Regions from separate parts of the Homo sapiens genome. Here region 2 is linked to region 1. The links come from fine-mapping of genetic effects on gene expression. Tissue or cell type: whole blood. Region 1 holds a variant in brackets; the other region holds the start of a gene. All regions are shown on one strand. Distances are from middle to middle.

Region 1 (2,682 bases):
AGCCTTTTACCATTATATACTGTCCCTCTTTGTCTCTTTTAACCACTGTTGCTTTAAAGTTTGTTTTGTCTGATATAAGAAGAGCTACCCCTGCTCGCTTTTGGTGTCCATTTGCATTAAATGCCTTTTTCCACTGCTTTAAGTTTATGTGAGTCCTTATGTGTTAGGTGAGTCTCCCAAAGGCAGCAGATGGTTGGTGAGTTCTTATCCATTCTGCGGTTCTGTACCTTTTAAGTGGAGCATTTAGGTCATTTACATTCAATGTTAGTATTGAAATGTGAGGTACCGTTACTTTACTTTCGTAGTGCTCTTTCTTGCCTATGTACTTTGGTTTTGTTTTGTGTTTTTGCTTTTTAACTTGTATTTTTGCATTATGGGTACTGTGTGATTTATGCTTTAAAGAGGTTCTGTTTTGATGTGTTTCCAGGATTTCTTTCAAGATTTACAGCTCCTTTTAGAAGTTCTTGTAGTGGTGATTTGGTAATGGCGAATTATCTCAGCATTTCTTTGTCTGAAAACGGCTTATCTTTCGTTCACATACGATGCTTAGTTTCACTGGATACGAAATTCTTGGCTGATAATTGTTTTGTTTGAGGAGGCTGAAGATAGGTCCCCAATTCCTTCTAGCTTATAGGGTTTCTGCTGAGAAGTCTGCTGTTAATATGGTAGGTTTTCCTTTATAAGTTACCCTGTGCTTCTGTCTCATGGCTCTTGATTCTTTCCTTCATCTTGAGTTTGGATAACCTGATGACAACGTGCCTAGGGAAAGATCTTTTTGTGATGAATTTCACAGGTGTTCTTTGTGCTTCCTGTATTTGGATGTTTAGGTCTCTCACAAGGCTGGGGATATTTTCCTTGATTACTCTCCCGAGTATGTTTTCCAGGCTTTTAGAATTCTCTTCTTCCTCGGATATACCGATTATTCTCAGGTTTGGTTGTTTAACATAATCCCAGACTTTTTGGAGGCTTGTTCATATTTTCTTATTCTTTTTTCTTTGTCTTTGTTGGATTGGGTTAATTCAAAGACCTTGTCTTTGAGCTCTGAATTTCTTTCTTCTACTTGTTCATATCTATTACTGAGACTTTCTAGAGCATTTTGCATTTCTAAAAGTGTGTCCAAAGTTTCCTGAATTTTTGTTTTTTCATTAAGCTATCTATTTTCTTGAGTGTTTCTCCCTTCACTTCTTGTATCATTTTTGGATTTCCTTGCCTTGGGCTTTGCCTTTCTCTGGTCCCTCCCTGATTAGCTTAATAACTAACCTCCTGAATTCTTTTTCAGGTAAATCAGGGAATCTTCTTGGTTTGGATCCATTGCTGGTGAATTAGTATGATTTTTTGGGGGTGTTGAAGAGCCTTGTTTTATCATGTTACCAGGGTTGGTTTTCTGGTTCCTTCTCATTGGGGTAGGCTCTGTCAGAGGGAAGGTCTAGGGATGAAGGCTAT[C/T]GTTCAGATTCTTTTGTTCCACGAAGTGTTCCCTTGATGTAGTATTCTCTCTCTTTTCCTATGGATGTGGCTTCCTGTGAACCAAATTGCAGTGATTGCTGTCTCTCTTCTGGGTCTAGCCACCCAGCAAGTCTACTCAGCTCTGGGCTGGTAGTAGGGGATGTCTGCACAGAGTCCTGTGATGTGAACCATCTATGGGTCTCTCAGCTGTGGATACCAGCACCTGTTCTGGTGGAGGGTGCAATGGACTCCGTGAGGATCCTTAGTTTTGGTGGTTTAATACCCTATTTTTGTGTTGGTTGGCCTCCTGCCAGGAGGTGGTGCTTTCCAGAAAACATCAGCTGTAGTAGTGTGGAGAGAGACTGGTGGTAGGTGGGGTCCTAGAACTCCCAAGATTATATGCCCTTTGTCTTCCACTACCAGGGTGGACAGGGAAGGACCATCAGGTGGGGGCAGGATTAGGCATGTCTGAGCTCAGACTCTCCTTGGGCGGGTCTTGTTGCGACTGCTGTTGGGGATGGGGGAAGAGATTCCTAGGTCACTTGAGTTGTGTACCTAGGAAGATTATGACTGCCTCTGCTGAGTCATGCAGGTTGTCAGTAAAGTGGGGGAAAGCCGGCAGTCACAGGCCTCACTCAGCTCCCACACAAACTGAAGGGCTGGTCTCACTCCCATGGTCTCACTCCCACCGTGCCCCTCTCACAACTCTGAGTCTGTTTCCAGGCCACAGGCGGGCAGCAGGCTTGCCCCAGGCTATCCGCCTCCCAGCTGCAAGAGAAAAGGGCTTTAGTTTTCCCCCTGCCGGTGAAGTCTGCATGCAGGATTTGCACCCTACCTTGAGTTCTGGTCAGGAGGCTTCTCACCCTGTTCAAATTGTTACAAAGTTCAGCTAGAGAATTCCTTCTCCCTGGGGAGTTTTATCCCCTGCTCCTCTGGCCACCCTCCCAATGGATCCCTGTGGTGCCAGGCAGGAATGGCCTGCTTGGGGACCCAGCAAACTCCCAGGGCCTTTCTGCTGCTTCCTCTACCCCTGTTATTTCGCTTGCCTCTCTAACTTGACTCAGCTCCAGGTAAAGTTGGAAACTTCTCCTGCAAACAGACCTTCAGCTTCTCCAGTGGGGGTGTGTGTTTGGGAGAGGAGGGTCTCCCTTTCCCATTTCTGCAGTTGGGGCACTCCCAATATTTGGGGTTTCTCCCGGGTGCTGCAGGAGCAGTCCGCTTTCTTCAGAGGGTCTGTGG
Region 2 (2,682 bases), 110 kb before region 1:
CAGCTGTGCCAGGATTCAACCAAGATGCAGAGAATGTGAAGTTCAGTTGTCAAAATTAGGAAAGCTGGGTAAATCTGCCAAATTCGAAGTTGGCAATTCCGAGGTGGTGATGAATACTTCCATCCTGAAACTTAGTTCTCCAGATCCGATGAAAAAATACAGCATTTACCAAGTATGCCAACATTTTTCCATTAAAATATTTTTAAAAAATGGCTGAAACACTAAACCTGAAGCTGTATACAAGATAGTTGAAAGTACAGTTTCAACTACTGAAAATAGTTTGTATAAATCCGAACAGGAAGACATTTACTTAAGCCCAATGTGCGTTCACTTATCTATATATTACATAGTTACACCACACCTGAAACTTCAGGAACTTACTCTGCCAAGCTCACAGTACTGCCCCGCATTAACAACACACTTATTAAATAGGGAAGTGTATACACTGTTTTCAACAATCAACTTTAGCCAATCTGACCTTTTTCCAAAGCGTTATTGTTTGTTTTGAAACTTTTAATCCAATAAGAGCCTCTGTCGATGCCATCATGAATTCAGATGTGTTTATTTTGGAGCCTACACCAGCGCCTTTTTTGTTTGCTCTTTCCGGCAATTCCCCAGTGAGGAAGCCCCTGGAGGAAAGTCTTTCGCTACCGTCGGCACTGGAGGGGTGAGAGCTGTAAAAGGGAGAATTGGGAACGGCATGGGGTTGGCCACTCCAGCACTTGAGCAGCTTTCTTCTGCGTTAGGAAGCCTGGGGAGAGGGGAACTGGCTAAAGGGCAAAATGTCACTGAGGAACTTCGGAGAAGATGGGGACAAGGCGTCGGGCGGGGGAGCCAGCGCTCAGGTGAGAACTAGGAAGGGGGCGGCGCCCAGGGACCGGCTCCAGGCGGCGGCGGGCGGGGAGCTGCCAGGAGGTGGGTGTGCGTATCTGGGTGTGTCCCGGCTGCGGTGGGGGAGGGGGCCGCCCTTCCCGGGGTCCTGAGGGAGGGGCCCCGCGAGGGGGCGGGTCCGGCAGATCAGCCCGGCCGGGGGCCAAGGGGGTGGAAGGTCGCCCGGTGCCTGGAGGCGGGGTGAAGGAAAGTAGCTGAGCGCCCCAGGAGCGCGCTGCGGCGGAGGGCGGGCGAGGTGACCCCGGTGCAGGGAAGTGGCACTGGGGTGTGGGGCCCGAGTCCAGTCAAGGAGCAGCACCTACCTCCGGGGGTGGAAATGGGCCGGAATGGGCCGGAACACCGTCCCGGAAGTGAAATCCCCCACCCCCTCCCACGGAGCGGGCGACGTGCCGGAAGGAAATCACTCAGCCTTACACCGCCCCCCCTTCCCCCATCCCCAGAGCTTTCCTTGCCTCGCGCCCCCTCCCCTCTCTGCTCTTCCTCCTCAGTCGGGAGGAGGGCGGGAGCACGGCATCACGTGGACGGTCATGTCTCTGCCCACAATGGCGAGGAAGGGCGGGGAAAAGGGGCGGACTTAAGGGGTGGGAAGAAGGTGATACTGGATGAGAGGAAGATTGAGGGAGGTTAGGGGGAGGAGCCGAAGCGGACGCTGCCGGGAGCGTGCGTCGTGACGTCATCAAAAGAACTCTTATATACAGGAGCCCAGGCACCATACTGTCTTTTCGAGGTAGGAGTCGACTCCTGTGAGGTATGTTTTATCTTTGCGAATGTTGCGGGTTTTGGGGCGCTCCAGCCTTTGTCTGCTAAGGTCACCCTGAATTGACTGGGACTTCTAAGCCAGTCGCGCGCCTTTGCAGGGCCTACAAGTTGAGGATGGTGGGGGATTGCACATATGGTGCATGCGTGACCTAAGCTGCGACTATGTTAGAGTAGAACTGCGGAGAAGCCTCGGCTCTCGTGCCCTGCCTCTGATGAAGCCTGTGTTGGTAGGGACATCTGAGAGTAATGATGAATGCCAACCGCTCTGATGGTGGCACATGCCGAGTCACCCGAGTAAGCTATTGTTAAGGGCCGTGACCCGAGCCTCCATCAGCCGTCCGCTCTCATGAAAGGCTGTCGGTGGTAGTCCACGTGCTTAAGTGCCTGCATTCCGCAGTGTCACCAATATTTCCATTAGTGTTTCTTTTTTCTTTTTTGAGACCGAGCCTCGTTCTGTCACCCAGGCTGGAATGCAGTGGCTCGACATCGGTTAATGGCAACCTCCGCGTCCCGAGTTAAGCAGTTCTGCCTCAGCCTCCCAAGTAACTGGGACTACAGGCGCGCGCCACCATGCTAGGCTTTTATATTTTTAGTAGAGACGGGGTTTCACCATGTTGGCGAGACTGGTCTTGAACTCCTGACCTCAGGTGATCCACCAGCCGTGGTCCCCCAACATACTGGGATTACAAGCCGTGAGCCACCGCGCCCGGCCGCCATCGGTGGTTCTTAACTGCGGGTGCAGTGCTTCTTTGTAACATTAAGTGTATCCTTTACCTGTCGCTAGATAATGAATGGTATGTTACCTGCATCATTGGTTTAAAAAGACGAACCGTTTTTTTAAAGAACACTCTTTAAAAAAAAGAACCGTGGAACAATGAATTAAAATCTGTACCTGATCTCTTTAGGTATGGTGCTGGGTGCAGATGCAGTGTGGCTCTGGATAGCACCTTATGGACAGGTAAGAATTGGGGAAAGTATGGTGGGAAGAATGAAATCTAAGAGGTGGTCTCAGCCTGTGATGCTTTAAGAGTA

What was found. PIP is the estimated chance that this variant, and not a neighbour inherited with it, causes the effect.
Region 2: GAS5 starts here. The variant in region 1 is fine-mapped to the expression of GAS5 in whole blood (TOPMed, PIP above 0.99).

Annotation. Positions count from the first base shown.
Region 1 is chr1:173,758,484-173,761,165 of GRCh38, reverse strand. All of the region lies in intron 7 of KLHL20 (kelch like family member 20), which reads right to left. Among named protein-coding and RNA genes, the nearest start is that of KLHL20, 45 kb to the right of the region's middle. RefSeq lists an enhancer at 1,732-2,232. The variant C/T (reference allele first, on the strand shown) is at 1,444.
Region 2 is chr1:173,866,917-173,869,598 of GRCh38, reverse strand. It overlaps GAS5 (growth arrest specific 5), which reads left to right and starts at 1,610. Exons shown (of 12, transcript NR_002578.4): 1 at 1,610-1,639; 2 at 2,556-2,608. It overlaps ZBTB37 (zinc finger and BTB domain containing 37), which reads right to left and starts at 1,219. Exons shown (of 5, transcript NM_001122770.3): 1 at 1,194-1,219; 2 at 479-674. It overlaps SNORD74 (small nucleolar RNA, C/D box 74), which reads left to right and starts at 1,854; the gene lies at 1,854-1,925. It overlaps SNORD75 (small nucleolar RNA, C/D box 75), which reads left to right and starts at 2,661; the gene lies at 2,661-2,682. RefSeq lists an enhancer at 1-1,140 and a silencer at 775-1,184.